4 linked regions of the Homo sapiens genome follow. The protein of the gene in region 1 binds, or shares a complex with, the protein of each later gene. Each region holds a gene or a part of one and is shown in the gene's direction. Other genes may lie near its edges. The genes, in order: LSM2, PPIH, PRPF3 and SNRNP40.

Region 1 (7,890 bases):
ACAGACACCGAGCGGCTCATTGGGGATGCGGCCAAGAACCAGGTAGCAATGAATCCCCAGAACACTGTTTTTGATGCTAAACGTCTGATCGGCAGGAAATTTAATGATCCTGTTGTACAAGCAGATATGAAACTTTGGCCTTTTCAAGTGATTAATGAAGGAGGCAAGCCCAAAGTCCTTGTGTCCTACAAAGGGGAGAATAAAGCTTTCTACCCTGAGGAAATCTCTTCGATGGTATTGACTAAGTTGAAGGAGACTGCTGAGGCCTTTTTGGGCCACCCTGTCACCAATGCAGTGATTACCGTGCCAGCCTATTTCAATGACTCTCAACGTCAGGCTACTAAGGATGCAGGTGTGATTGCTGGACTTAATGTGCTAAGAATCATCAATGAGCCCACGGCTGCTGCCATTGCCTATGGTTTAGATAAAGGAGGTCAAGGAGAACGACATGTCCTGATTTTTGATCTGGGTGGAGGCACATTTGATGTGTCAATTCTGACCATAGATGATGGGATTTTTGAGGTAAAGGCCACTGCTGGGGACACTCACCTGGGTGGGGAGGACTTTGACAACAGGCTTGTGAGCCACTTCGTGGAGGAGTTCAAGAGGAAACACAAAAAGGACATCAGCCAGAACAAGCGAGCCGTGAGGCGGCTGCGCACCGCCTGCGAGAGGGCCAAGAGGACCCTGTCGTCCAGCACCCAGGCCAACCTAGAAATTGATTCACTTTATGAAGGCATTGACTTCTATACATCCATCACCAGAGCTCGATTTGAAGAGTTGTGTGCAGACCTGTTTAGGGGTACCCTGGAGCCTGTAGAAAAAGCGCTTCGGGATGCCAAGATGGATAAGGCTAAAATCCATGACATTGTTTTAGTAGGGGGCTCCACCCGCATCCCCAAGGTGCAGCGGCTGCTTCAGGACTACTTCAATGGACGTGATCTCAACAAGAGCATCAACCCTGATGAGGCCGTAGCATATGGGGCTGCGGTACAAGCAGCCATCCTGATGGGGGACAAGTCTGAGAAGGTACAGGACCTGCTGCTGCTGGACGTGGCTCCCCTGTCCCTGGGGCTGGAGACGGCTGGGGGCGTGATGACTGCCCTGATAAAGCGCAACTCCACCATCCCCACCAAGCAGACACAGATTTTCACCACCTACTCTGACAACCAACCCGGGGTGCTGATCCAGGTGTATGAGGGCGAGAGGGCCATGACAAAGGACAACAACCTGCTGGGGCGGTTTGACCTGACTGGAATCCCTCCAGCACCCAGGGGAGTTCCTCAGATCGAGGTGACGTTTGACATTGATGCCAATGGTATTCTCAATGTCACAGCCACGGACAAGAGCACCGGCAAGGTGAACAAGATCACCATCACCAATGACAAGGGCCGCCTGAGCAAGGAGGAGATTGAGCGCATGGTTCTGGATGCTGAGAAATATAAAGCTGAAGATGAGGTCCAGAGGGAGAAAATTGCTGCAAAGAATGCCTTAGAATCCTATGCTTTTAACATGAAGAGTGTTGTGAGTGATGAAGGTTTGAAGGGCAAGATTAGTGAGTCTGATAAAAATAAAATATTGGATAAATGCAACGAGCTCCTTTCGTGGCTGGAGGTCAATCAACTGGCAGAGAAAGATGAGTTTGATCATAAGAGAAAGGAATTGGAGCAGATGTGTAACCCTATCATCACAAAACTCTACCAAGGAGGATGCACTGGGCCTGCCTGCGGAACAGGGTATGTGCCTGGAAGGCCTGCCACAGGCCCCACAATTGAAGAAGTAGATTAATTCTTTTTAGAACTGAAGCATCCTAGGATGCCTCTACATGTATTTCATTCCCCTCATCTTCAAACATCATTATTATTCTTGACCAGACCTGAATCTAAGTTACCATCCCTTGGAAATTCTGGAGAAGGAGTCTCATGCACCACCTATCACACTCCCTCACATCCTGTTTCTGACTTTGGAATGGACTCAGGAAAACTAGGCCCCTCTTTAAACCGTGTGATGTATTTGAATGTCTGTTATTTCCAGCCACCCTAACATTCTTCTTCCTGTGTGGATGCTTATTTGTCAATCAGTAAATTTGTTCGTAAAGAAAATTACTTCTGGTATTTAGGCTGTGAATGTACCTTGAAGGGGAGAGTTCATGGAGAGAGCATGTGTTCTCTGATTGTGAGGTCACTGTGAATGATTAAATTGGTAAGGGTAAAGTATTTGAATTTTCATGAACTCATTTTGTGTGTGTGTGTGTGTGTGTGTGTGTGTGTGTGTGTGTTTTGAGAGACAGTCTCGCCCTGTCACCCAGGCTGGAGTGCAGTGGCACAATCTCAGCTTACTGCAAGCTCTGCCTCCTGGGTTCACGCCATTCTCCTGCCTCAGCCTCCCGAGTAGCTGGGACTGCAGGTGCCCCCCACCATGCCCGGCTAATTTTTTGTATTGTTTTAGTAGAGACGGGGTTTCACTGTGTTAGCCAGGATGGTCTCGATCTCCTGACCTCGTGATCCGCCCGCCTCGGCCTCCCAAAGTGCTGGGATTACAGGCGTGAGCCACCGTGCCCGGCCCATGAACTCATTGTTTCAATCAGCCACATAATTTTTGATCCTCAGACACCTTTAGCACAGATGGAACAGATGGCAAACTATAACTGCTTTTAATCAGTTACAAGCTGGTTTTGGAGTTTAGGACTCAACTGGGGGTGGAGGGACAAATCCTGCTTGATGTCCTGATGTCACTTATAGGTAAGGTCCAGGAGATTCAGCATCTATGCACTCACAGAGTTCATTGTTTACATCCATTACATGGAGAAAATATTTCTTTTCTTTTTTTTTTTTTTTGGAAACAGTTTCGCTCTTGTCGCCCAAGCTGGAGTGCAATGGCACGATCTCGGCTCACTGCAAACTTTGCCTCCCAGATTCAAGCGATTCTCCTGCCTCAGCCTCATGAGTAGCTGGGATTACAGGCGCTCACCACCATGCCCGGCTAATGTTTGTGTTTTTAGTAGAGACGGGATTTCACCATGTTGACCAGGCTGTTCTGAACTCCTGACCTCAGGTGATCCACCCACCTCAGCCTCCCAAAGTGCTGGAATTATAGGCGTGAGCCACCGTGCCCAGCCCCAGAAAATATTTCTATAACAAACTCTTGACAAATAAGTATGTCTATGCAAGATGACAAATACAAGTTTTATGAAGTCTCAGTCCATGAAAAAATATTTTTACCAGCTGGGCACAGTGGCTCACGCCTGTAATCCCAGCACTTTGGGAGGCCGAGGCGGGCGGATCATGAGGTCAAGAGATTGAGACCATCCTGCCCAACATGGTGAAACCCCGTCTCTACTAAAAATACAAAAATTAGCTGAGGACGGTGATGCGTGCCTGTAGTCCCAGCTACTCAGGAGGGTGAGGCAGAGGAATCGCTTGAACCCGGGACGTGGAGGTTGCAGTGAGCTGAGATCGTGGCACCACACTCCAGCCTGGTGATAGAGCGAGACTCCATCTCAAAAACATTTTTTTCTTTTACCTGTGTCCTAATACATATTTATAAAAACCTGGGGGATATGAGTTAGAATAATATGTAACTGCATTTCTGTCTGTTTGTGTTTGAAACATTTAACAGTGAAATGTTAGACTGGGTTATTTGTATCTGTGAGCCACAGTCTCTTTAGTTTTACACAGTCCTTTACAGGACAGTCTTGGCAAAAGTGTGTAAGAAATGCGGAGATTGAGGTTGGCTCCTTTGGAGAAATGTATTTATTGGTAACCTTTGATAAAATCAAAATTTGTGCTCCAGCTCCTCCTTATCTCTGGGACTGCTCAACGTTGTTTGTTTATAATTTTCTTTTTTCTAGAGAGAGTCTCGCTCTGTCACCCAGGCTGGAATGCAGTGGGGAGATTGTAGCTCACTGTAACTCTTGGGTTCAAATGATCCTCCTGCCTCAGCCTCCCCAAATGCTGGGATTTACAGGCCTCAACATTTTTTGTTTTTTGGGATGGAGTTTTGCTCTTGTTGCCCAGGCTGGAGTGCAATGGCAAGATCTCCACTCACTGCAACCTATGCCTCCTGGATTTACAGGCGCGTGCCACCACACCCGGCTAATTTTTGGGTTTTTAGTAGAGACAGAATTTCGCCATGTTGACCAGGCTGGTCTCGAACTCCTGACCTCAGGCGATCCACTTGCCTTGGCCGCCCAAAGTGCTGGGATTACAGGTGTGAGCCACTGCTCCCGGTCATTTTTTTTTTTTTTTTTTTTGAGACGGAGTCTTGCTCTGTCGCCCAGGCTGCAGTGCAGTGGCGCGATCTCGGTTCACTGCAACCTCCGCCTCCCAGGTTCAAGCGATTCTCTTCCCTCAGCCTCCCGAGTAGCTGGTATTACAGGAGCCTGCGACCACGCCTAATTTTTTTTGTATTTTTAGTGAAGATGGGGTTTCACCATGTTGGCTAGACTGGTCTCGAACTCCTGACCTCACACAATCCACCCACCTAGGCCTCCCAGAGTGCTGGGATTAAAGGCTTGAGCCACGGCCCTCGGCCTTTTTTTCTTTTTATCAGCTGAATTTAAGATTCAAAACATTTTTTAATTTTATTTTTTAAATTTTATGTTTTTACTTTAACAAATATAGAAAAGTGCACACTTCATAATCTTAACAAACTCCCCACAATTCTCGATAGGAAGTGTGTGTAGGGCACAAACACATCACGCTGTAGATGGCAGGATTCTGGAAAAGAACAAAATCCTTTGAGCTCAGGCGCTGAGTCCCGCCACCCGTCTGGCAGCCCAGGCTAGGGTCCGCGCCTGCGCAATGGGAGCCGGCCGGCCAGGGAGGAAGTCGGAATGAAGGAAACCCCGCCCCTTTCCCGGCTTCCTCCTCCCCTCTACTCTACCCAGCTTGCGCTCCCCAGCCGCAAGTCGGCCGCGCTTTGCCCGTCAGCGCTTGGAGCTTTCTGCGTCGCTTCCCGCTGCGCCTGCGCGGTCCCGCCTCGCCCCACGCGCGGGCTCGCGCTTCGGTTTCCCCAGACCTGCTCGCAGCACCCTGCTGTCTTCCCGGTCCGGCCCGCTGCCCGCGGCGCCAGCACCATGGTGGGTACCGTGACGTCAAAAGGGGGCGCCCTCGGGGACCTCGCATGGTTGGGGCGGGGGATCTGGCCTTTGTACCCCTAGGCTGGAGTTAGGTCCGGAGTTTTTATCTTCATCTTTAGTACTGTACTGTTTCTCAGGTTCATTGAGGAGGCACTGAGAACAAATGGGATATTTTTTCCATGATGAGGGAAAAAACCCCAACCCTGAGAGAGATTCAGTGAGGATAGCGGGAGACGGAAAAGTTAGACCTCAGAGCACTTCTCTGCCAGGCAAGCTTCGGCAGGGTGCGGGTGGGATATTTTCTACAATTCATTGAAAGGAGTGGGCAGGTACCCGAGAAAGGTGGTCGACTGAGAGAGCACAGTGGGGAGGCCGACGTATGCAGGGCAGAGTCTCTCTGGGACTTTAAGTGATGGGCTCAGTGCAGTGTGCAGAATAATTTGGGCTCCAGCCTTTCAGCTCTGTCAACCAATTATTCTTTCCTGTGAAATTTTGAGAACTGTCAGGGATGCAGTGGGGTTCACAATACCAGTATTTGGTAATACTGTCAAAGGACACTCCTCCCTACCATGCTCCTTCCCACATGATGGTTTTCCCCCTCTCTCCCAATAGCTCTTCTATTCTTTTTTCAAGTCCCTTGTGGGCAAGGATGTGGTCGTGGAACTAAAGAATGACCTGAGGTAGGTACCTGTTCCAACAAGTCTGTTGGGGGTGGGTGTGCCCAGGGCCCTGGAACCTCTTTAATTTGAGAAATATTTCAGGGCTAGGCGAGGTGGAAGATGTACAGAAGAAATAAATGGATAGGGTGCAGTGGCTCAAGCCTGTAATCCCAGCACTTTGGGAGGCTGAGGAAGGAGGAAAGCTTGAGCCCAGGAGTTTGAGGCTGCAGTGAGCAGTGATTACTCCATTGCACTCTAGCCCAGGCAATAGAGCAAGACCCCATCTCTAAGAAAAATTTTAAAATTTAGCAATAAATAAATGCCTTGTGCCTTAAATTTACAGATAAGCTTAGAGATTGTATCGTGTATTGGAAAACAATACAAAGCAATATATAGTTTAAAGAGTAAATACAGGTCAGGCGCAGTGGCTCACGGGCTGGACGTGTGGCTCATGCCTGTAATCCCAGCACTTTGGGAGGCCAAGGTGGGCGAATCACGAGGTCAGGAGTTCAAGACCAGCCCGGTCAAGATGGTGAAACCCTGTCTCTACTAAAAATACAAAAATTAGCCGGGCACGGTGGCTGGTGCCTGTAATCCCAGCTACTCGGGAGGGTGAGGCAGGAGAATCGCTTGAACCTGGGCGGCAGAGGTTGCAGTGAGCTGAGATCACACTGCTGCACTCCAGCTGGGTGACAGAGTGAGATTCTGTCTCAAAAAAAAAAAAAAGTAAGTACTAGGCTGGCCATGGTGGCTCACACCTGTAATCTCAGCACTTTGGGAGGCTGAGGCAGGAGGATCACTTGAGTCCAGGATGTCGAGACTAGTCTGGGCAACATAGTGATGAGACCTCTATTTCTATAAAAAATTAGCCAGGTGTAGTGTACATGCCTGTAGTCTCAGCTATTCGGGAGGCTGAGGTGGGAGGATCACTTGAACCCAGGAGGTCAAGGCTGCAGTGAGCCATGATTGTATCACTTTACTCCAGCCTGGTTGACAGAGGAAGACTCTGTCTCAAAAAAAGAACAGGCCAGGCCGGGCGCGGTGGCTCACGCCTGTAATCCCAGCACTTTGGGAGGCCGAGGCAGGCGGATCACAAGGTCAGGAGATTGAGATCATCCTGTTTAACATGGTGAAACCCTGTCTCTGCTAAAAATACAAAAAATTAGCCAGGCGTGGTGGCATGCTCCTGTAGTTCCAGCTACTTGGGAGTCTGAGGCAGGAGAATGGCGTGAACCTGGGAGGCGGAACTTGCAGTGAGCCAAGATGGTGCCACCGCACTCCAGCCTGGGTGACAGAGCAAGACTCCGTCTCAAAAAAAAAAAAAAAAAAAAAGAAAAAAAAGAACAGGCCATAGGCCGGGCACGATGGCTCATGCCTGTAATCCCAGCACTTTGGGAGGCTGAGGCGGGTGGATCACGAGGTCAAGAGAGCGAGAACAGCCTGGCCAACATGGTGAAACCATGTAGTGTATCTAATACCTAGCATAGGCCAGTTATATGATAGGTGCTTAAAGAAAGAAAAATAATATCCGAAGACGTATTGACTAACCACTATTCTGAATACATTTATTGATTGATTTCTCAAACACTGCTAAGTAATATATACTATTGCTGTTTTACACGAGGAAACTGAGGCTTAGATCAGCTATACCACTTGTTCAAGTCTACAAAACTAGTAAGTGACACAACTGAAATATGATTCTGTCCAGCTTTTTTTCTTTCTTTTTTTTTTTTTTTGAGATGGAGTTTCAGTCTGTCACCTAGGCTGGACTGCAATGGCGTAATCTCGGCTCACTGCAGCCTCTGCCTCCTGGGTTCAAGCAATTCTCTGCCTCAGCCTCCCTAGTAGCTGTGATTACAAGTGCCCACCACCATGCCCGGCTAAATTTTGTATTTTTAGTAGAGATGGAGTTTCACCATCTAGGCCAGGCTGGTCTTGAACTCTCGACCTTGTGATCCACCTGCCTCAGCCTCTCAAAGTGTTGGGATTACAGGCGTGAGCCACTGCGCCTAGTCCTACTTTCTTTCTTAAAATAATATTTATTTATTTAAAAATTAGAGACAGTGCCTCACTTTGTTGCTCAGGCTGGTTTCAAATTCTTTGAGTTCAAGCAGTCCTCTTGCTTCAGCTTCCCAAAGTGCTGGGGTTACG
Region 2 (7,022 bases), on another chromosome or scaffold:
CTTTCTTCTTCTCTTTCCCATTTGAAAGTTGCAGACTTCTTGACACTTTACCCCTAAGTATTTCAGCAAGGAACTCCTAAAAATAAGAACATCCTACGTAACCACAATATTATCTAATATATAGTACATTTTCAAACCTCCCCAATTGTCCCAAAAGTAACTTTTGTAGCTTAAAAAAAGGTGATCCAATCAAGGTTCCCATATTTCATTTCATTTGGTTTACACAAGTAACATAATACACTCTCATTGTGAAAACTTTCACACCAAACAGATAAAGTGAAAGCCCCTCTTGACAATACCCACCTGCAATTCCACTCCCCTTTCCAAAGGTCACTTCCTTATTAGTTTGATGTATGTCCATCAGGGCCTTTGCCTTGCCCATCTAATTTTGGGAGGTTTTCTTTTTCCCAAATGAAATCATACTATATTTTTCATGTTCTAAAAAATATGTCTTGAAAACTTTTCCTTCTTAGTTCATGTAAAACCACCTTGTATTAAAAAATGAAAACAGCCCGGCAGGAGGTGGCTCACTCCTGTAATCCCAGCACTTTGGGAGGCCAAGGAGGGCAGATAGCTTGAGCTCAGGAGTTCGAGACCAGCCTGGGCAACCTGGTGAGATCCCGTCTTTCCAAAAAAAAAAAAAATTAGCCAGGTGTGGTGGTGCATGCCTGTAGTCCCAGCTACTCAGGAGGCTGAGGTGGGAGGATTACTTGAGCCCAGGAGTTTGAGGCTGCAGTGAGCTATAATCACACCACTGTACTCCAGCCTGGATGACATCAAAAAAAAAAAAAAAAGGAAAAGAAAAACCGAAACTGCAGTGCAGGCTGAGCATCCCTAATCCGAAATCCCAAATGCTCCAAAATATGAAGCTTTTTGAGCACTAACATGACATTAGAAGTGGAAAATTCCACACCTGACTTCATGTGATGGATCATAGTCAAAAATCTGTTTCATGCACAAACGTATTAAAAATATTGTATAAGATTACCTTATACAATAGCTATAAGTAGCTAGGACTACAGGTGCATGCCACCACGCCCAGCTAATTTTTATATTTCTTGGTAGAGATGGGGTTTCATCATGTTGGCCAGGCTGGTCCCCACCTCAAGTGGTCTGCCCACCTTGGCCTCCTAAAGTGCTAGGATTACAGGCGTGAGCCACTGCCCCCAACTGAGCATTAGTTCTTAATTTTATATGTTGTAATTGTTTTCTTCAGAATATATTTTAAGAAAAAAATTAGTATTGTGTTGCTTAAGTTTGGTGATATTCTTTGTTAAAGAGAAGTTCTAAATTTTGATGAAGTCCAAATTATCAGTCTTTCACTGCTTTTCAGTTTTGTCTCATTTAAGGTCTTTACTACCTCAGATCACAATGTTTTCTGTGTTTTTTCTAGTATTTCTTTTTATATGGTGGAGCTAAGATCATTTTTCTAGTATTTTTAAAGTCTTATTTGTACATTTATAAAATCATCTATAATTAATTTTTCTGTATAGTGTTAAGATAGGACTTTTTCTTGTCTTTTTTTCCAAATGGAGATCCAGTCAAATACCTGACCATTTTAATGACTCTACAACACACCTTTATCTGTGACCAACTCTGTTCAGAAAGCTGGCACTTACAGGCATTCAGTAAAAATTTATTACATGAGTTAAGTAGAGAGGGAGAATGTCAGGCATTTTAGGCGGGGAACTCGTGTGAGCAAATGCTGAGGCTGGAATGCACAAGTGTGTGCTGAGAGCTACATGTGGACCTCTCTTGTTCAGCCAGATGATCCCTTCTCAGGCCCACTTGACACCCTGAGCTTTCCTTTCTGCCAATACTGGGTCCCCCTTGGGCCCAGCCTGCTCTCCCTCTTCAATGGCTGCTGGCCATTCCCTCCGTCTCCTACTCATTTCTTTGCTGTAACTAAAGTTGAGTTCATAGGTCCTTTCTTTTCAAAGACTGACCACTGATCACTACCAGAGGACAAACGATAACAAAAAGAATAAAGTTTAGAAATTCTTAATGTTGGGGCCTCTTTTCTGTATCTTTTTGAGTCTTTTACATAAAGTTACTGGAAGTCCTTGTTGAGGTTTTATTTCTGAGGGTGGGGATCATCAACCCTCCCCGCTCTCCCCCACTGTTAGCAAAAGTTATATGAACTTTTGCTTCCAAGAAAGCCCTTCTTCTCAGCCTGCAACCCAAGCAGAACGCATTCCTCAGGTGGCCATTGTACATTCCACAGGCCCGCTAGACCAGGACTGTCCATAGGCTGTGATGATGGAAAGATTCTAGATCTGGGAGGTCCAGTATGGTTGCTACCAGCCCCATGTGACAACGGAACACTTAAAATGTGGCTGGTGCAACTGAGGGACTAAACTGTTAACTTTTTATTTTTTATTTATTTTTTATTTTTTTGAGATGGAGTCTCGCTCTGTCGCCCAGGCTGGAGCACAGTGGCGCCGTCTTGGCTCACTGCAACCTCTACCTCCCGGGTTCAAGCAATTCTCCTGCCTCAGCCTCCTGAGTAGCTGGGATTACAGGCGCACGCTGCCATGCCTGGCTATTTTTTGTATTTTTAGTAGAGACGGGGTTTCATCGTGTTAGCCATGCTGGTCTTGAACTCCTAAGCTCAGGTAATCTGCTCATCTTGGCCTCCCAAAGTGCTGGGATTATAGGCGTGAGCAAACATTCCCAGCCTATTTTTTTTTTATTGACAGAACTAAGCTGTAGTTTATTAAATTTAAATTAGGCTGGATGTGGTGGCTCACACCTGTAATCCCAGCACTTTGGGAGGCCGAAGCAGGTGGATCGCTTGAGGCCAGGAGTTTGAGACCAGCCTTGCCGACATGGTAAAACCCATCTCTACTAAAATTACAAAAATTAGCCGGGCGTGATGACACACGCCTGTAATCCCAGCTACTCCAGAGACAAAGGCACGAGAATCTCTTGAACCCGAGAGGCAGAGGTTTCAGTGAGCCAAGATTGTGCCATTGCACTCTAGCCTGGGCGACAGAGCGAGACCCTGTCTCAAAAATAAATAAGTAAATAAAAAAATAATAAATGTAAAGAGCCAGTTGTAGCTAGTGGCTACTGTACTGGACAGTGAACTCTTTTAAATGTAAGCTTCTCAATCTACTCGCCCTGGCTTGCTTAGAACTGAATCTCGTAGCTAATACTTAAGGGCACTATAATTAAAGCAGTTATCCTTCAATGAATTCTTCCTGTGCCCGGATAATGAGCTAAGAACTTTACTTGAATTATCGCATTTCACTTTACCAAAAATCCCTCATAGGTTTTAAGGTGTTAGGAAATCTGGGTGGCAGTCTAATGTAAAGGGGTTCTACAGATGGGCACCCCATTTTGGGTTTCTGAATAATGTGATTTAAGAAAAATTAATGAAAGAGGAGATGAATTTCCCATGGAGCAGGGGTGTGGAGGGAAGGGAAGTGGTATTTTTAAGCCCTATTGGGCAGTATTTCTTTCTTTCTTTTTTTTTTTTTTTCGAGACGGAGTCTTGCTCTGTCGCCCAGGCTAGAGTGCAGTGGCGCGATCTCGGCTCACTGCAGACTCTGCCTCCCAGGTTCAAGCAATTCTCCTGCCTCAGCCTCCCGAGTAGCTGGGATTACAGGTGCCCACCACCGCACCCAGCTAATTTTTGTATTTTTTAGTAGAGACAGGGTTTCACCATCTTGGCCAGGCTGGTCTCAAACTCCTGACCTCATGATCCATCCGCCTCGGACTCCCAAAGTGCTGGGATTACAGGCATAAGCCACCATGCCTGGCCGGGCAGTATTTCTTATACTTTAACGTTCATACGGATCTCCAGGAGATTTGTTATAAAATAGTGGTTCTGACTCAGTGGGTTTGGATGGGGACTGAGATTTTGCATTTCTAATCAGCTCTCAGGTGATGCTGATGCAGACTGTGAGGCAAGTCAATAGGGGATAAGAGTCTATCTTTTAATTGAGAACTTGCCATATTCCAAAAAAAAAAAGACCAAGAGGAAGTACTCTCTTGGTGGCACTAGTCCAGCAGGAATCCATTGCATTCACATCAAGGTATCACCTAATCCTGCATTTGAGGCCTTGTGCCCAGGCACTGGACATATGCAGTGAAACAGCTAAGAAGGAGATAGAAGACGGGTCACTTGATCAATTCTACCTCCCTATGGAGCACTTCTTTCCAGAACCTTTGTGTTTTGCCTTCCTAGGTTCTGACTTTGGTTTTAGTGAAAATGAAGTTTTGTGTACAATTTTTTTTTTTTTTAAGACAGAATCTCACTCCGTTGCCCAGGCTGGAGTGCAGTGGCACGATCTCAGCTCACTGCAACCTCCGCCTCCCAGGTTCAAGCGATTCTCATGCCTCAGCCTCCCGAATAGCAGGGATCACAGGCATGCTCCACCACGTCTGGCTAATTTTTTTGTATTTTTAGTAGAGACAGGGTTTCACCAAGTTAGCCAGGCTCGTCTCAAACTCCTGATCTCATGTGATCTGCCCGCCTTGACTTCCCAAAGTACTGGGATTACAGGCGTGAGCCACCATGCCTGGTCTGTACAACTTTAGTTATAGAAACCTTGGTTTTATCTCAGTGAGTTCTGGGAGAGTTTTTTTTTTTAGACAGGGTCTTACTCTGTCACCCAGGCTGGAGTGCAGTGGCGCAGTCACAGCTCACTGCAGCCTCGACCTCCCTGGCTCAAGTGTTCCTCCCACCTCAGCCTCCTTAGTAGGTGGGATTATAGGCGTGCAGCACCACACCCAGCTAACTTTTTAGAGATGGGGTTTCACCATGTTGTCCAGGCCGGTCTCAAACTCCTGGCTTCAAGCGATCTTCCCACCTCAGCCTCCCAAAGTGCTGGAATTACAGGCATGAACCACCGTGCCCAGCCCTTGGAAAACTTTTTATGATGAATTTGGTTATGTATAGCATAAATGAACCTCTACACTCAGGATTCTCCTGCTGTAGTCTGAATGGGTTGTTTGCTACTTACATGGACATGGGAGAGGGTGGCACCTCTCTTTTGAAAGCCCGAGTTCTGGCAGCTCTGCTAGTCTGATATGCTTACCCTCTTCCCTGTGATCCTCAAACCTGGTACCAGTACCAAATGGTAGAGAGCTTTCCTTAATTCATTGTTGCCTAGATTCTCCAACAGGTAATAATCATTTTGGGGCACTCGTTAAACCTACGAATTCCTAGATCCCTTCCCTGGAGTATTTGATTGAGTGGCTTTGGGGTGGGACCAGGATGTTATGTTTGTAACAAGTATCTCACATGCTTCTTAATAGAGAAGTGTGGGAAACACTACTTTAGTTAGTGGTGGGATGACTGTCTTTTATTTTAATATTTGGATCTTAGGAAAAAATACGGAATTAGCACAATACATCATTTTACAGTTATTACAGCTTATAGTGAGGCAATATTGAAGTTCAAATAGTGATTAGCTTAAAAAATAAATTGTACCTGTGGATGATAGATATTGTAACAGTTGTGAAGATGCTATTTGAATGACTAAGGTTTAGGAAACACTGTGTTTCATTCTAGAATTACCTATAGATGCGAGACATTCCCGTAGGGGAAGATTAGGAAATATGTGTTGGTGGCAGTTGGGCTGGTCCTCTATTCATTCCACAACTAAGCGCTGATGAATTAAGATAGTTCCCATGCTGCATATGAGGCTACAGATTTGAAAAGTCAGTTCCATCCTTCAAGGAACTCAGTCTCTTGGGAGAACTGACAATTACAGTACAATAAAGCCCTGTATTGGAGGTTTTAGAACAAGGTGAGGAAAGCATAAATGCCCGGATCTTCCCAGAGTGGTTGAGTAGACTACAGAAGAGATGATGCTTCAGTTTAGTACAAGAAAGAATATAACTTGTCAGGTGGCTAAAACTGGGCAGGGCATTCCAGGCAGAGGGAACAGCCTATGCAAAGTCACAAAGGCAGGAAACAGCAGGAAGTGTAGAGGAAGCTGCAAATAATTCAATATGACTGAAGCAGGAAGATATGAAAAGCAAATGGTGAGAAGGTTGGAGAGAGGCCAGGGCCAGTAGTGAAAGCCAGTGCCAAGTTTAGCAGTTCATATGTTATTCTGAGGGCAGAGGCTGACTTTCAGGCATGAAGTAATTTTTCCCTTTTGGGGAAGGAGTCCACTGTGCTCCTGAGATTCTCAAAAGGGGCACTGACCCTCCAAAAAAGAATCAGGCCAATATGAACCACTTAAGGATTTTCAGCAGAATACTGTAGATGAATTTTCATGTTCAGAAGATGATTCTAGCAGCATTGTGGAGGATGGGCTGGAGGCCAGTGAGGAGTCTACTGCAGTAGTAGTCCAGGCAAGAGAAAAGAGGTTTTACATGAAAATATGGGTCTGGGGAACACTGGAGATTTGGCAGCAAATATTTATGTGCCTGCTGGGCATGTGACACTGTATGTTCCCTGTCCTGAAACTCAGAAGCTCTGCCAGCTGAAAAGGCCAGGAGTGGAGAGAATGTCTGGCTCCAGTCCATTCCAGTCCAGTACAAAGGCAAAGCTGCTTGCATTGCAGCCAAGTCTTACACACGTAGAGGTTCCATTCTCTTCAGTGGAATACTATACAGCCTTAACAAAATAAAGAGGTAGATCTGGATGTGTTGGCAAGATTTCTAAGGTAAGTTAAGTGACAGTCAAGATGTAGTAATTTATGTAAGCATGTTACTGTTTATTTTGAATGACTTTCAGGAATCTCTGCAGTGATATATAGCAGACTGTGGATAATACTTCTGCAGAGTAGAGATAGCAAAGAGACTTTTCAGTTGCCTTATTTAAGCTTGAATTTTCTACCTTGAACATGTATCTTGTAATAGAAATACATACTGTTTATATGTAGTGTTAACTAATCCTAAATCCTCCCAGCACTTCCCAGGAGCCTGCCCACAGCTGTGGCTAACATCAGGTGTGAATCCATTGCTGATCCCTCCACCTCCTCTTCCAGGTCTAAGCCCAGACAGTGGGTGCTCCCACAGCACTTGGTTCATCTCTCCACTGTGGCATTTAATATACTGTA
Region 3 (7,574 bases), on another chromosome or scaffold:
GAGTTGCAGACCAGCCTGGCCAACATGGCGAAACCCCATCTCTACTAAAAATACACAAATTAGCCGGGCGTGATGTCGGGCACCTGTAATTCCAGCTACTCGGGAGGCTGAGGCATGAGAATTGCTTGAAACTGGGAGGCAGAGGTTGCAGTGAGCTGAGATCGCAACAGTGCACTCCAGCCTGGGGGATAGAGCGATACTGTGTCTCCGAAAAAAAAAAAAAAAAAAAAAAAAGAGTCTCACTCTGTGGCCCAGGCTGGAGTGCAGTGGGATAATCTTGAGTCACTGCAACCACTGCCTCCCAGGTTCAAGAGATTCTAGTGCCTCCCTCCTGAGTAGCTGGGATTACAGGCATGCACCACGATGCCCAGCTAATTTTTGTATTTTTAGTAGAGATGGGGTTTCACCATGTTGGGCAGGCTGGTCTAGAGCTCCTGGCCTCAAGTGATCCACCCACCTCAGCCTCCCAAAGTGCTGGGATTACAGATATGAACCACTGTGCCCAGCCCTACATTTATTTATTTGAGATAGAATCTCCTTCTGTCATCCAGGCTGGAGTGCAGTTGCATGGGATTATTGATGTGAGCCACTGTGCCCAGCCCTACTTTTATGTATGTATCTACTTATTTGAGACAGGGTCTCCCTCTGTCATCCAGGCTGGAGTGCAGTTGCGTGATCCCAGCTCACTGCAACCTCTGCCTCCTGGGTTCAAGCGATTCTCCTGCCTCAGTTTCCCAAGTAGTTGGGACTACAAGAGTGTGCCACCACACCTGGTAAATTTTTCTATTTTCAGAAGAGACGGGGATTGAGTCACCATGTTGGCCAGGCTGGTCTTGAACTCCTGACCTCAAGTCATCCTCCAGCCTCAGCCTCCCAAAATGCTGAAATTATAGGGGTGAGCCACTGTGCCCGACCTCTAGTTTTTGTATATTTCTTAAATTTAGGTCTTAGATCCATTTTGAATTAATTTTTGTATACGGTATGAGGTAGGGGGTCCAATTTAACTCTTATGTTTGTGGATATCTGCTTTTCCCAGCATCATTTGTTAAACAGACTGTCCTTTCCACATTGAATAGCCTTGGCACCTTTGTCAAAAATCAGCTGACCATGGCCAGGTGCAGGGGCTCATGCCTGTAATCCCAGCATTTTGGGAGGCTGAGGTGGGCAGATCACGAGGTCAAGAGTTTGAGACCAGCCTGGCCAATATGGTGAAACCCCTAATAAAAATACAAAAAAATTAGCTGGGCATGGTGGCATGCGCCTGTAGTCCCAGTTACTCGGGAGGCTGAGGCAGGAGAATTGGTTGAACCCAGGAGGTGGAGGTTGCAGTGAGCCAAGATTGAGCCACTGCACTCCAGCCTGGGCAACAGAGGGAGATTCCGTCTAAAAAAAAAAATGTCGAGCACGGTGGCTTATGCCTGTAATCCCAGCACTTTGGGAGGCCGAGGCAGGCAGATCGCCTGAGGTCCAGAGTTCGAGACGAGCCTGACTAACATGGAGATACCCCGTCTCTACTAAAAATACAAAATGAGGCCGGGTGCAGTGGCTCACGCCTGTAATCCCAGCGCTTTGGGAGGCCGAGGCGGGCAGATCACGAGGTCAGGAGATCTAGACCATCGTGGCTAACACGGTGAAACCCCGTCTCTACTAAAACCACAAAAAATTAGCCGGGCGTGGTGGCACACACCTGTAGTCCCAGCTACTCAGGAGGCTGAGGCAGAAGAATTGCTTGAACCCAGGAGGCGGAGGTTTCAGTGAGCTGAGACTGTGCCACTGCACTCCAGCCTGGGCAACAGAGCGAGACTCGTCTCAAAACAAAGAAGAAAAAAAATACAAAATTAGCCTGGCGTGGTGGCGCTTGCCTGTAATCCCAGCTACTCCAGAGGCTGAGGCAGGAGAATTGCTTGAACCTGGGAGGCGGAGGTTGCGGTGAGCCGAGATCGCGCCATTGTACTCCAGCCTGGCCAATGAGAGCGAAACTCCATCTCAAAAAAGAAAAAGAAAAAAAATACAGCTGACCATATATGTGAGTGTTTATTCTGGGCTCTCTATTCTTCCTTTTTTTTTTTTTTTTTTTTGAGACAGAGTCTCGTTCTGACACCAGGCTGGAACGCAGTGGTGCAATCTCGGCTGGCTGCAACCTCCACCTCCCGGGTTCAAGTGATTCTCCTGCCTCAGCCTCCGGAGTAGCTGGGACTACAGGCGCGTGCCACCACGCCCAGCTGATTTTTGTATTTTTAGTAGAGACGGGGTTTCACCATGTTGGCTAGCATGGTCTCGATCTCTTGGCCTCGTGATCTGCCCACCTCGGCCTCCCAAAGTGCTGGGATTACAGGCGTAAGCCACCGCGCCCGACCCTCTATTCTCTTTTGTTGGTTTACCTGCCTGTTCTTACGCCAGTACCACACTGTGTCTTACACATTACATTTAATCCTCACGATACCTTTTTGAAGTAGAGATTCTTATTCTATAATTGAGGAAACAATCTCAGAAAAAATTACCTGAAGGAAACACAGCTAGTAACCGGAAAGCTACAGTTTAAATGTATCCAATTCTAAAAATTGGAAATAAAATCAGTTTTGTTTTGTCGAGATGGAGTCTCCCTCTGTCGCCCAGGCTGCAGTGCAGTGGCGCGATCTTGGCTCACTGCAACCTCCACCTCCCGGGTTCAAGCAATTCTCCTGCCTCGGCCTCCTGAGTAGCTGGGATTACAGGTGCCCACCACCACACCCAGCTAATTTTTGCATTTTTTTTAGTAGGGATGGGGTTTCACCATGTCGGCAGACTGGTCTCAAACTCCTGACCTCAAGTGATCCACCCGCCTCGACCTCCCAAAGTGTTGGGATTACAGGCGTAAGCCACCACACCTGGCCTAAAACCAGTTTCTAGAAACACATTTCTCCATAGGGAATTGAACGCAGACTGTTAGAAGCACCAAAACAAAATAAATTTACAACAACCCTGCAATGTTGAAACTCATTAACCCATTCAACAGACTTTTTGAGTGAATATTTTGTGAGACATTGGTGTTAGAAGCTGTAGGTGGGGAAACTGATTTGTGAATAAGTTGAGCAGTAGGTTCAAACTCCCCCAACTTGTTCCTTCAGAGCCAGGCTTTATCCTGTTATGTCGTGCTGCCCCATCAGGGAAGGTGGGGCTTGGTATGTACATTGTTATCTTTAGATACAAAAATCTCCTACTATCTGGGGAATGTGAATAACCTCCCTGAAGAACAACTGCATCTTCTAGTCAGCCTACCACCAAGAAGACATTTTGGAACTTTAGTTTGGATAGTTTATAATATAAAAATAATGGAATTTTTTCCATTTCTCATATAAGAAATTGTGTCATAATACTGGACAATCTTTTTCCAAACTATCTTTGTCCACACACATGTTGTTATGAATCATCGATTTAAAGAGTCAGTAGGGGCCGGGCGCGGTGGTTCAACCCTGTAATCCCAGCACTTTGGGAGGCCGAGGTGGGCGGATCACGCGGTCAAGAGATGGAGACCATCCTGGCCAACATGGTGAAACCCCGTCTCTACTAAAAATACAAAAGTTAGCTGGACGTGGTGGTCGCGCGCCTGTAGTCCCATCTACTCGGGAGGCGGAAGTTTCAGTGAGCCGAATGCACTCCAGCCTGACGACAGAGCGAGACTCCGTCTCAAAAAATAAAAAATAAAAATAAAAAATAAAGGGTCAGTAGGTTAGAGCCTCATTTTGGAGAGAAGTTAATATATAGACCTATTGATAGAATGGAGAAAACAATACTGGTAGGTCTCACTTGTCATTTATTGAGCCCAAAGTGCTGGGATTACAGGCGTGAGCCACGGCGCCCGGCCTGACACCACTGTTAAATTAGGGAGAAAGGGTTTACTTTCTACCAGAAAGGCTGTGTTTGAACACAAACGCAGAAGCCTCGCTCTTCATTCTAGCCTAAGTTTACTTTTGCGCACTTATTCTCCATATGAGGAAAACAGCAAGTAGCCCAATTTCCGCTTCAGGAAGTTAAAGACATTAACTTGGCAGAAATCGGCCGGGCGCGGTGGCTCACGCCTGTAATCCCAGCACTTTGGAAGGCTGAGGCGGGCGGATCACGAGGCCAGGAGATCGAGACCATCCTGGCTAACACGGTGAAACCCCGGCTCTACTAAAAATACAAAAAATCAGCCGGGCGTGGTGGCGGGCGCCTGTAGTCCCAGCTACTCGGGAGGCTGAGGCAGGAGAATGGCGTGAACCCGGGAGGCGGAGCTCGCAGTGAGCCGAGATCGCGTCACTGCACTCCAACCTGGGCGACAGAGCGAGACTCCGTCTCAAAAAAAAAGCTAAAAAAAAAACCTTGGCAGAAATCTAGCTAATAGGTTTAGCCTGGGAAATAGAAAGCAAGGAAATTGCTCAGGGAAACTTTTCGGTTCTGCGACGCATGCGTTCAGCCTCCAAGAAAGTGGCAAATACGGCTGCGCGAATTGGCGGCCCGGCCCTCCTTGGTCACGTGTTGGGAGACAGCGGCGTGGCGGCGGCGGTGGCGGTAGCGACGGCACGCCGTAGGGCGGTCAGAAGGTTTCCGGTTCCGGTGTAACGTTCGGGCTCCGTCTCAGGGGCTGAAGTTTGTGAGGTGAGTAGTGGCCCCGGGCCCACAGAGGGTAATTCCAGTCCGCGCCACTGTGGCCGGGGACTCAGTCCAAGGGGAGGACCGAAGCGGGAGGGTTCAGCGGGAAGGAGTGTGAAAGGAGTACCTGGTTTGGTGGGAGAAGAGGTTGGAATGAGATTGTTGAGAGGAAAAGGGCGGGGGCGGGAAGGAGACCGGGTTGGGAGACCAGCTCTGGGGTGAGGAGTTTAGGTAGAACAAGGTAGAGTAAGAGACTGGTTGGAGTGACGGAGAGAGTAAAAATGAAGATTAGCGGGGGAGTGGGGGGCTGCAGAGGGAAACTCAGGTTGTAGCAAACAAGAGCACGGAGTAAGGAATTCCTTCTGAAGACTGGATTTGGATTCTGCTGCCTGCTCATTGAGAGGAGAGATCATTGTACCTCGCTTTCCTTCCGCACCCCCACTACCCCCGCACCTCGCAGTTATTGTTGAGCATTTGATTAGTGACAAGGCTAATTACCGTTTGAAACTTTTTTATCCATTGGCTGTTTAGTTTGCACGTCATCTTATGGAGGTAACAGTGGCACCTCATTTATTGCTTTGGGCTTTCAAATTGCTTATACTTTCTAGCCTATCATTCAATTCTAGTGGAATATAAGACCCGTTAAGGTGAGGACTCTTGTTAGTTTTGCTCACTGTTTTATGTATCCACCGCACCTAGTACATTGCTTGACACTTAGTAGTTACTCAATAAATATTTATTGAATGAATTAGGATGTAAATATGGCAGTACTCATTTTGTAAGATGGTAAACTGTGGCTCCAAAGAATTACTTAACTTGCCCAAGGGCTTGTAAATGGTGGGGCTCAGTGTCCCAACTGTTTCTGTGTGAACTCTTGTTTTCACTTTCTATGGCATCTGGATATGCCGCTTTTGTGCAATACATGTGTAATATGTAGAAATTGGTACGCTGTATGTCTACTCATTGTGGGGTAATAGAACCACCATAGAATTACTCACGTAACTTGTCACTGAGGCAGAAAATCTTTCAGTCTTAGTTTCATCACTTCAATCTACTAGCTTCCTTTGGATATACCAAAAGTGAGTCTATTTGGCATCAAGTCTTATAGACTCTAGTATAGAGGCTAAACTTACCAAGAATGTAGAAGTTAATCAGACTGGATTTTTTGGAGAAAAGATGTCTTAAAACATCTTGAAAGATGATTCCCAGATCTTTGATAAGTGGCACTGCTGGGAATAGCTGAGCTTGGAAATTGAGGTCAGTCAATTTATTGACTCCCATTTAGACACCTTTTTTTTTTTTCCCCGGGACGGAGTCTTGCTCTGTCGCCCAGGCTGGAGTGCAGTGGTGCGATCTCGGCTCACTGCAACCTCCGCCTTCCATGTTCAAGGGATTCTCCTGTCTCAGCCTCCAGAGTAGCTGGGATTACAGGTGCAGGTCACCACGCCCAGCTAATATTTGTATTTTTAATAGGGATGCGGTTTCACCATGTTGGCCAGGCTGGTCTCGAACTCCTGACGTCAGATAATCCACCCGCCTTGGCCTCCCAAAGTGTTGGGATTACAGGCGTGAGCCACCGCACCTGGCTTTTTTTTTTTTTTTTTTTTTTTTGGAGACACAGTTTCACTCTGTCGCTCAGGCTGGAGTGCACATGATTTTGGCTCACCGCAACCTCCGCCTCCTGGGTTCAAGTGATTTTCCTGCCTCTGCCTCATAAGTAGCTGGGATTACAGGTGCCCACCACCTCACCTGGCTAATTTTTGTATTTTTAGTAGAGACAGGTGCAGTGGGTCACGCCTGTAATCCCAGAACTTTCGGAGGTCAAGGTGGGCAGATCACTTGAGGTAAGGCATTACCTGGCCGATATGGTGAAACCGTGTCTTTATTAAAACTACGAAATTGGCCAGGCGTGGTGGTGCATGCCTGTAGTCCCAGCTACTTGGGAGGCTGAGGCAGGAGAATCAAGTGAACCCAGGAGATGGAGGTTGCAGTGAACCAAGATTACGCCACTGCACTCCAGCCTGGGCGACGGAGTGAGACTCTGTCTCAAAATAAAAATGAGGGTATTCTTTTCTGAGCTGAAGGATCATCAAGTCAGCTGATGGAGACCCTGTAGATTGAACATGATAATTACCTGTATGCAGAATTCCCACTGGGATGAATATGACCACAGAGAAATGTGACAGAACATTCTTTTTTTTTTTTTTTGAGACGGAGTCTTACTCTGTTGCCCAGGCTGGAGTGCAGTGGCGCGATCTTGGCTCACTGCAACCTCTGCTGCCTGGGTTCAAGTGATTCTCTTGTCTCAGCCTCCCGAGTAGCTGGGATTACAGGCGCCTGCCACCATGCCCAGCTAAATTTTTTTGTAGTTTTTAGTAGAGATGGGGTTTCACCATCTTGGCCAGGCTGGTCTTGAACTCCTGACCTCGTGATCCACCTGCCTCAGCCTCCCAAAGTGCTGGGATTACAGGCGTGAGCCACCGCGCCCGGCCAGAACATTCTTAAAGATCATGAGATTTAATTTAATATCTAAGATGACTGACCTGGATAAACCCTCTTTTACTTGCATACCTTAAAAGAAGGGAATCCTACATAAGTCAGGGTTGGGTTAGGGAATGCCTGCCTGGAAGTAGGAAGAATGGAAAAGCTGGCCTCTGGATGGGCTTTTTTAGTTCTGTTTTAGTGTTACTAGGTTTGCAAGTCCTTGTTGATATGACAGGATCAAGAAAGAAGCTAGAACTAATTTCTCAGACTTAGCTTATTCACAGAGTTTGTTTATTCCGCAGATTTCATTGATCAACTTAAGAGTTAGAATTAAAAATCAAATGGGATCTCTTTCTGCTTTGAGATATGGTTCTTGGGGAAAATATTTGCCTTCAAATGAGTTGGAAAAACTTGTCTAGGGATTGAGAATAGGGCTGGGGAATGCATTCCTGATGTACTAACCATTTCCCTGGATCACT
Region 4 (7,022 bases), on another chromosome or scaffold:
TAGTCTGTGTAAAGATAAATACTGTTTTGTATTTTCCTTTTTTGCTTAATAGCTTATTATGTAAATATTTTTACATTTGGTCTTCTGAGTTATTTTTAGGAACTGCTTAACAATAGCTACACATTATTGAGGACCTGTCTTGTGCCCGGCATATGCTAAGCATTCTTATAATCCTTACAACAGCCGTAAGAAGTAGCTATTGTTATCCCTAATCTTACAGACCAGGAAACAGGCCCAGAAAGAATTAGTGACCCAATGACACATAACTCTAAGTGGCAAGGAACAGTTTATTCTTACCCTAAGTCACCACTCTTTCTACTCTGTCATGCTATCTCCTGTATGAGAATTCAGTTTTGCAATGTGCTTATGAACCATAATTTAATAAACCACCTATTTTTCCTGCTTGACGTTTAGGTTATTTTCTGTATCTTACGTTTCCTATACAAGCAATAGTGAACCTGTAATTTATTTTTATTTTAATAAATGTGCTTTTCCATAGTGTATGTGCATGTACATATCCATACATGTACATATATATACATTTATTGTCACATATTGTTACATTAAAAGAAAAATTTTAAGCATCTGTATTTTTCATATTGTTACACAAACATGTAATCATAATGCCTTTTTTAAATGACATGTTCGTTTTATGTATTTATAATAATTTTTAATGGCTAAGAATCATAGCCATTTTTAGTTTTTTTCTATAATAGTTTTTCTTTGCTATGATTTGAAAATAACCTTTCTGAATTCTATTTTTTTGTGTGTAAAACTTTATCTTAACATTTGATATGCATTCGTTTATATTTATCTAGTCAAACGTGGTAGCCTGAGCTACCTTTTTAGAAAGACAGAGATTGGCCAGGCATAGTGGCTCATGCGTGTTAATCCAAATACTGAGAGGATGAGGTGGGAGGATTGCTTGAGCTCGGGAGTTCAAGACTAGCCTGGGCAACATGGTGAAACCTGTCTCTTCAGAAAAATTAGCTGGGTATAGTAGCATGCTCCTGTAGTCCCAGCTACTGGGGAGGCTTAGATGGGAGAATCACCTGAGCCCGGGAAGTCAAGGCTACAGCGAGCCATGATAGTGCCACTGCACTGGGCAACAGAGTGAGACGCTGTCTCAAAAAAAAAATGAAAATTAAAAAAAGGTGTTTTTCTCTTTGACAGAAATCCTGTGTTTTATAGTAGAGTAATATCAGTGTCTCTGGGCAATTGACTCTTGTCTCTTGTGTCATTCTCTTTCTCTGCTTTTATTAATTTGATTTCTGGGGGCACCTTTCTGTTTTTGCAGGTCTGGGACCTGCGCCAGAACAAGCTAACCTACACCATGAGAGGCCATGCAGATTCAGTGACTGGCCTGAGTTTAAGTTCTGAAGGCTCTTATCTTTTGTCCAATGCAATGGACAATACAGGTAACTTTGGAAAGGAAATCTCTCCCAGGATCCAAGGAAAAAGTCAAAGATTGCTCACAGATTCCATCAGACGATTAGAATGTGTTGTAATGGGGAAAGCTTTAGGTGAGATAGTCAAGAATCTAGGACTGTAGTCTCAGATCTCTGTCTTGTCCCTGAACAACTTTGCACACAGCATTTCTTCTCTCTAGGCATCAGTTTCTACATTGATAAGAAGATTGGACTTTACCTTTAAGACCCATCTCAGCTCTGGTATGCTGTGTATCCAACAGGATATTAGAAACTCTAGGTGATGAGTTTAATGAAAAAGATGTGAATCTAGAAGTCTATTCAAGGCAGTTCTTGTGCGTTTTCAGAGAGCACCAAGCTTGGATGATCTCTTCTGCTCTTTCCTGCCAGTCTGTCTTCCCTCCCCACTCTGAAAGCATTGGTGTGGGAAGAGGTCTTCATTAAAACATTCTGGATTTACACGAACACACTCTTGCTCTTTCTCTTTACTTGTTTTTGAGTTGTAGGGTGGGAGGATGGGTTACTACAGAAAAAAAGTAAGGTGACTTGCTGGATTATATGCTTAATGTTGAGGGAGTTTGGAAATGGCCCTGGTATACAAAATTATAGGCTTGTCAGGAACTAAAATGTATTCCCTGACATTTTGTAACAAAAACAATACCTGACATTCATTGGGTACTTAATAAATATTTGTTGAATTAATGGACATCTTTACCTTTTAACTATATTCTCAATGGCAAACTTTCACGCATAGCTTTGCCTTTTTATGCCTGTCTGACTCCAAGGATTGATAATACTTTTTTCATACTCAAATAAAATGACATCACTGAAATTCCACTATAGGTATAGCTTCAGTTACAACGGCTATAGCTACTGCTTACAATAGATGTTTATACACATTTAATCTAGCATTAAAAAAATATTTTTTCCTTAATTTTTTTGATAAGACAGGATCTTGCTGTGTTGCCCAGGCTGGTCTCAAACTCCTGGGCCCAGGCAAGCCTCCCAAGTACCATGCCTAGCTAATTCTAGCGTTCTTTATGAGGAACAATGAGGTTTCCTAGATTGATACTAAAATAAGGAAAAAATAATAGAATAATTTCTTGTGGCTGCATAATACAATTACAAATTCTTTATTTTTGTTTGTTGCCTACAAATTTTAGAACCTTTGCACATATATCATCTCATTGGATCTTTAAAATAGTGTTATTGGCTGGGCAGGGTAGATCACCTGAGGTCAGGAGTTTGAGACCAGCCTGGCCAATGTGGTGAAACCCCATCTCTACTAAAAATACAAAAATTAGCCAGGTGTGGTGGTGGGCACCTGTAATCCCAGCTACTTGGGAGGCTGAGGCAGGAGAATCACTTGAATCTGGGAGGCGGAGGTTGCAGTGAGCCGAGATCACGCCACTGCACTCCAGGCTAGGCAACAAGAGCGAAACTCCATCTCAATCATATCAGTCAATAATATTATTTTAAAAAGAAGACAGATAATTTTCTCTTCATTTTACAGAACAGAAAAACCAAGACACAAACAATCTCACTGTTTACCTGACATCACCCAAATATGTAACAGAGATAGAATCAATGTTTACTTTTTCTGATTTTTGGTATGGTACAGTGCTTTTTTGATTTATTTGACCTTTTATATATTTTATATATATCTGACCTTGTCCAGTCTTAGACTATCAGGTGCCCATATGAGGGAAATTAGGAAAGGGCGATGTAAGTTTGGCTTTTATAAGTTCATTGTCACAGTAGTTCCTGGTATTTAGTTTGTCACATTGAAGCTTTGCTGGATGTGACTAAGCTGGCAGAGAAATCTTGCAAAATATCTTTTTGAAATTAGTATCACACCCAACTGCATTCTGTTGCAAATTACCAACATTGTGTGTGACATTTTTCCTTCCTGCCCCCTCAGCTAGCCCCAGTTATTGGGATTTAGATGTGTTTTCCTGCTTGAAAAAGAAAAGAGCCTTAACAGGTAGCAGTATGTCAAGTTGGACTTTGCCCACCGAGGAAACAGCATCTGCCATTGATTGACATGATACTAATTTCAGCTGGGTGCCCAGGAGGCCTCTGGCCGATAGTTGTTTTGGTTGGTTTGTTTATTTGGATTTGTTTTGCAGTTCGTGTCTGGGATGTCCGGCCATTTGCCCCCAAAGAGAGATGTGTAAAGATATTTCAAGGAAATGTGCACAACTTTGAAAAGGTGAGTTCTGCATGGCAGAGGAGTTTTACTGTTCATTTACTTCAGAGAAACATTTAAGGTGGTACTAAGGATAGAGAGCAGTAGCTCTGCTAAGAATGGACTTCATTCCAATAACACTGCTCTTAATTAAAACTTGTTGCCAAAAATAAAACGGATAGAAATAATAGTGACTGGGGAGAAGCCAGTCATATAGCCCAAAAGGAATGGAGCCAGCCCTCAAACTGAGGGCATCTGACTTGACACCAGCCTCAACAAGAGACTCCTGGCCTTTTTAATTACTTGGGAATTTTACCCTCCTAAATCAGTTTTCCATATGGAACCCAAGCTCCCATAGCTGTAACCTGGATGGTCTCCCTACCTGCCTCCGCATCCCGTGACCATGTGTGTTAGAACCCTAAGAATACATCTCTTCCCTCAGTAACTACCACGGCCCAAGTTCTGAGAGAGAAAATTTTTTTCAAAGCCTCAAATTTCAAGGTCAGCTCTATTGAAAGAAGCTTTTCCCCTCAGAGAATTTGTTAATAGAGATTTTTTTTTTTGAGAGCTCATTGAGATTCAGTTTCACTGTATAAATCAAATTTTGTTTTTTAGACCTGGCATGGTGGCTCACAGCTGTAATCCCAGCACTTTGGGAAGCCAAGGTGGGAGGCCAGGAGTTAGAGACCAGCCAGGGCAACATAGTAAGACCCTGTCTCTACAAAAGATAAAAAATCTGGGTGTGGTGGCATGTGCCTGCAGTCTCAGCTGCTTGGGAGGCTGAAGTGGGAGGATCACTTGGGCCCAGGAGGTCAAAACTACAGTGAGCTATGATTGTGCCACTGTACTCCAGCTTGGACAAGAGAGCGAGACCCTGTCTCAAAAAAAAAAAAAACCCAAAATTTATTATTTGTTGGGTTTGCGTGTATTTTTCTTCAAGATAAATAGGAAAAAAAATGAGTATCAAGATAAATGGAGCAAAGGGAGCCTCCATTTATAAGTAGAACAAAATTTTGTTGCCAGGTTCAATCTAATTAACTGTAAGTTAAGTATTTTCTACAGTTTTTATATGGTGTAAAATAACAAAGTATGCTGTTTTGGGCCATAGAATATAAGATAATTACAGACCATCTTCCTGAGAAGAGTAATTAAAACTCTAGTTAGGAAATTTAAAGCCTCTTAGTGATTCGGTAGCCTTGCAAAGAGGAGTTTGGTATATTACTATTCAGTGGATTCTTGTTTATCATAGAACCTTCTGAGATGTTCTTGGTCACCTGATGGAAGCAAAATAGCAGCTGGCTCAGCCGACAGGTAAGGATTAGTGGGTGCAAAGTAAAGAATGATGTAGCTGGCCGGATGCGGTGGCTCGTGCCTGCAATCCCAGCACTTTGGGAGGCCGAGGCGGGCAGATCACCTGAGGTCAGTTCGAGACCAGCCTGACCAACATGGAGAAACCCCATCCCTACTAAAAATACAAAATTAGCCGGGCGTGGCGGCACATGCCTGTAATCCCAGCTACTCAGGAGGCTTAGGCAAGAGAATGACTTGAACCTGGGAGGCAGAGGTTGCGGTGAGCCGAGATCACGCCGTTGCACTGCTCCAGCCCGGGCAGCAAGAGCGAGACTCCATCTCCAAAAAAAAAACAATGATATAGCTATGCAGGATGTCTTCTTGTGTTTTATACATAAAGCGTGGATATGGAGCTAGAGCAGACATAGAGTTATGACTGTGCTTGAAGATGAAGCTCTGTGCAGTATGAAGGGTTTCAAAACCGTGTTCGACAAACAGATCATTTCTACCCACTTTGGAGACATTTTAGACCTAGAGGATCAACAATTTGTTTGATTCTGTTGGGTTCCCTTTGCCATCAGAATAAAATTCAGTCTCATAATCTGTCTCTAGTTTCCCTCACCACATTTCTTATTCCATGCTTCAGTTCATTTGAACACATATTAAATACCCACCTCCCCCACCATCACCACAATGCTGCGCACATGGAATTTTCATATTCTAACCTCCTTTTGCGTTCTCACCTCTAGGTTCTCTCTCACATTCCCTCTTCATTATCTAAACTCCTATATCTCTCTAGTAACCACCTCTATGTTACATCCATAAACTGTCCCTGGTCCCCTCTCTCTATTACCTCTTGGAGATAACTAATTGTTCTTTGTGCTGTAATCCCATTTCATACATCTAAACTTTGGTAGCATTTATTACATCTTACAATCAGACAGACAAAGTGAGGTACCTCCACTAAGTTATTTTCTCCTAGAGATTAGGGAATGAATCTTAGTCATTTCTGTGAACCCATGGCACTGTTGTCAGTGCTTGAGCTTTTCTAACCAATTAGTTTATATTACATGAATGAATTCCTAGCTGAAGAATGGCAGTCCAATTTTACCCTGCATAGCAGCTCAGCTATTGGTAATGCCTGCCTGTGTTGGAGATGATTCAGAGCTGTGTCTGGGTTAGTGGGAAGTGCAATGATTGCTAGGTGCAGGGTGTAACAAAATGTGAACTAGGTATTTTCCACCCCATGCTGAATTAATCGGCTAAGGCTTTATGAAATACGAATCTAAACTGGCTCAGGCATTATGTGCTGAATGAGAAACAGAAGGGAGAGAATTCTTCTGTCAGATGCTGTTGTATTTGGCATGTCTGTGGTAACCTGTGCTTGGGGGAGAATCAGAGGTTGAATAGGGATGTCCAGGTGTCGAGTCTGATGGGCTGCAAATGAGGCCTGGTAAAGAACAATAAGACCCTCTGACAGCAAATCCTGTGTTTAGCTCTCATTGGGCAGTGTCTTGACCCTTTTTAGCTTAATCCTATCCTCCCCTTTAGAGTTTCTCTTTCAATCCTACTGAAACAAGCACCATCCTATAAATAGGAAGACTTTCTTGGGCTAGCCAGGGCTTTCAGCATATTCCAGGGTTTTCCTCTATTTGGGGCCCTAACGCTGCCACACAGAAGCTGCACTGTGATCTGTCCCATACCTTTCTATTAATGAATAATTCTGAACATATTTAAATTCCAGAGTCTACTTTTTTTTTTCCTGACAAGTTTAATGCCAAGAAAAATGGACAAGTATTCAGGTATTTTCTGGAGGAAAAAGAAAGGGTCCAGGTGAAAGTGTCACATTGATCATTTGAGTGCAAGTGGTTTAGAGAGCTGCCTAGAAGAGGGAAATCTAAAGAATTTTAAGTTATCAAGTTGCTAGAGAAGACTTCAAGAAACAGACTAAGGTGTCTCATATTCTGATATAGTAAGAACTATCCTAAGTATTTTTACATAATTTTCAGCAGAAAGAGTGTATCTTTTGTAATTAAATTTTTGTTTGTTTTTGAGATGTAGTCTCACTCTGTCGCCCAGGCTGGAGTGCAGTGGTGCAATCTCTGCTCACTACAAGC

What was found.
Region 2: LSM2 (region 1) and PPIH share a complex: the UniProt entries of both Homo sapiens proteins name them as parts of the U4/U6-U5 tri-snRNP complex.
Region 3: LSM2 (region 1) and PRPF3 share a complex: the UniProt entries of both Homo sapiens proteins name them as parts of the precatalytic spliceosome.
Region 4: LSM2 (region 1) and SNRNP40 share a complex: the UniProt entries of both Homo sapiens proteins name them as parts of the U4/U6-U5 tri-snRNP complex.

What each region holds. Positions count from the first base shown.
Region 1 is NC_000006.12:31,803,945-31,811,834, reverse strand, and holds the start of LSM2 (U6 snRNA-associated Sm-like protein LSm2), read left to right. Parts: upstream 1-4,868; 5' UTR 4,869-5,077; coding exon 5,078-5,080; intron 5,081-5,692; coding exon 5,693-5,760; intron 5,761-7,890. Other genes in the region: HSPA1L (heat shock 70 kDa protein 1-like), read left to right, coding at 1-1,788. UniProt on the Homo sapiens protein: Plays a role in pre-mRNA splicing as component of the U4/U6-U5 tri-snRNP complex that is involved in spliceosome assembly, and as component of the precatalytic spliceosome (spliceosome B complex).
Region 2 is NC_000001.11:42,668,417-42,675,438, forward strand, and holds part of PPIH (peptidyl-prolyl cis-trans isomerase H), read left to right. Parts: intron 1-6,871; exon of another isoform or gene 6,872-7,022. UniProt on the Homo sapiens protein: PPIase that catalyzes the cis-trans isomerization of proline imidic peptide bonds in oligopeptides and may therefore assist protein folding. Participates in pre-mRNA splicing.
Region 3 is NC_000001.11:150,316,976-150,324,549, forward strand, and holds the start of PRPF3 (U4/U6 small nuclear ribonucleoprotein Prp3), read left to right. Parts: upstream 1-4,557; 5' UTR 4,558-4,617; exon of another isoform or gene 4,618-5,163; intron 5,164-7,574. UniProt on the Homo sapiens protein: Plays a role in pre-mRNA splicing as component of the U4/U6-U5 tri-snRNP complex that is involved in spliceosome assembly, and as component of the precatalytic spliceosome (spliceosome B complex).
Region 4 is NC_000001.11:31,265,775-31,272,796, reverse strand, and holds part of SNRNP40 (U5 small nuclear ribonucleoprotein 40 kDa protein), read left to right. Parts: intron 1-1,297; coding exon 1,298-1,418; intron 1,419-3,556; coding exon 3,557-3,639; intron 3,640-4,864; coding exon 4,865-4,926; intron 4,927-7,022. UniProt on the Homo sapiens protein: Required for pre-mRNA splicing as component of the activated spliceosome. Component of the U5 small nuclear ribonucleoprotein (snRNP) complex and the U4/U6-U5 tri-snRNP complex, building blocks of the spliceosome.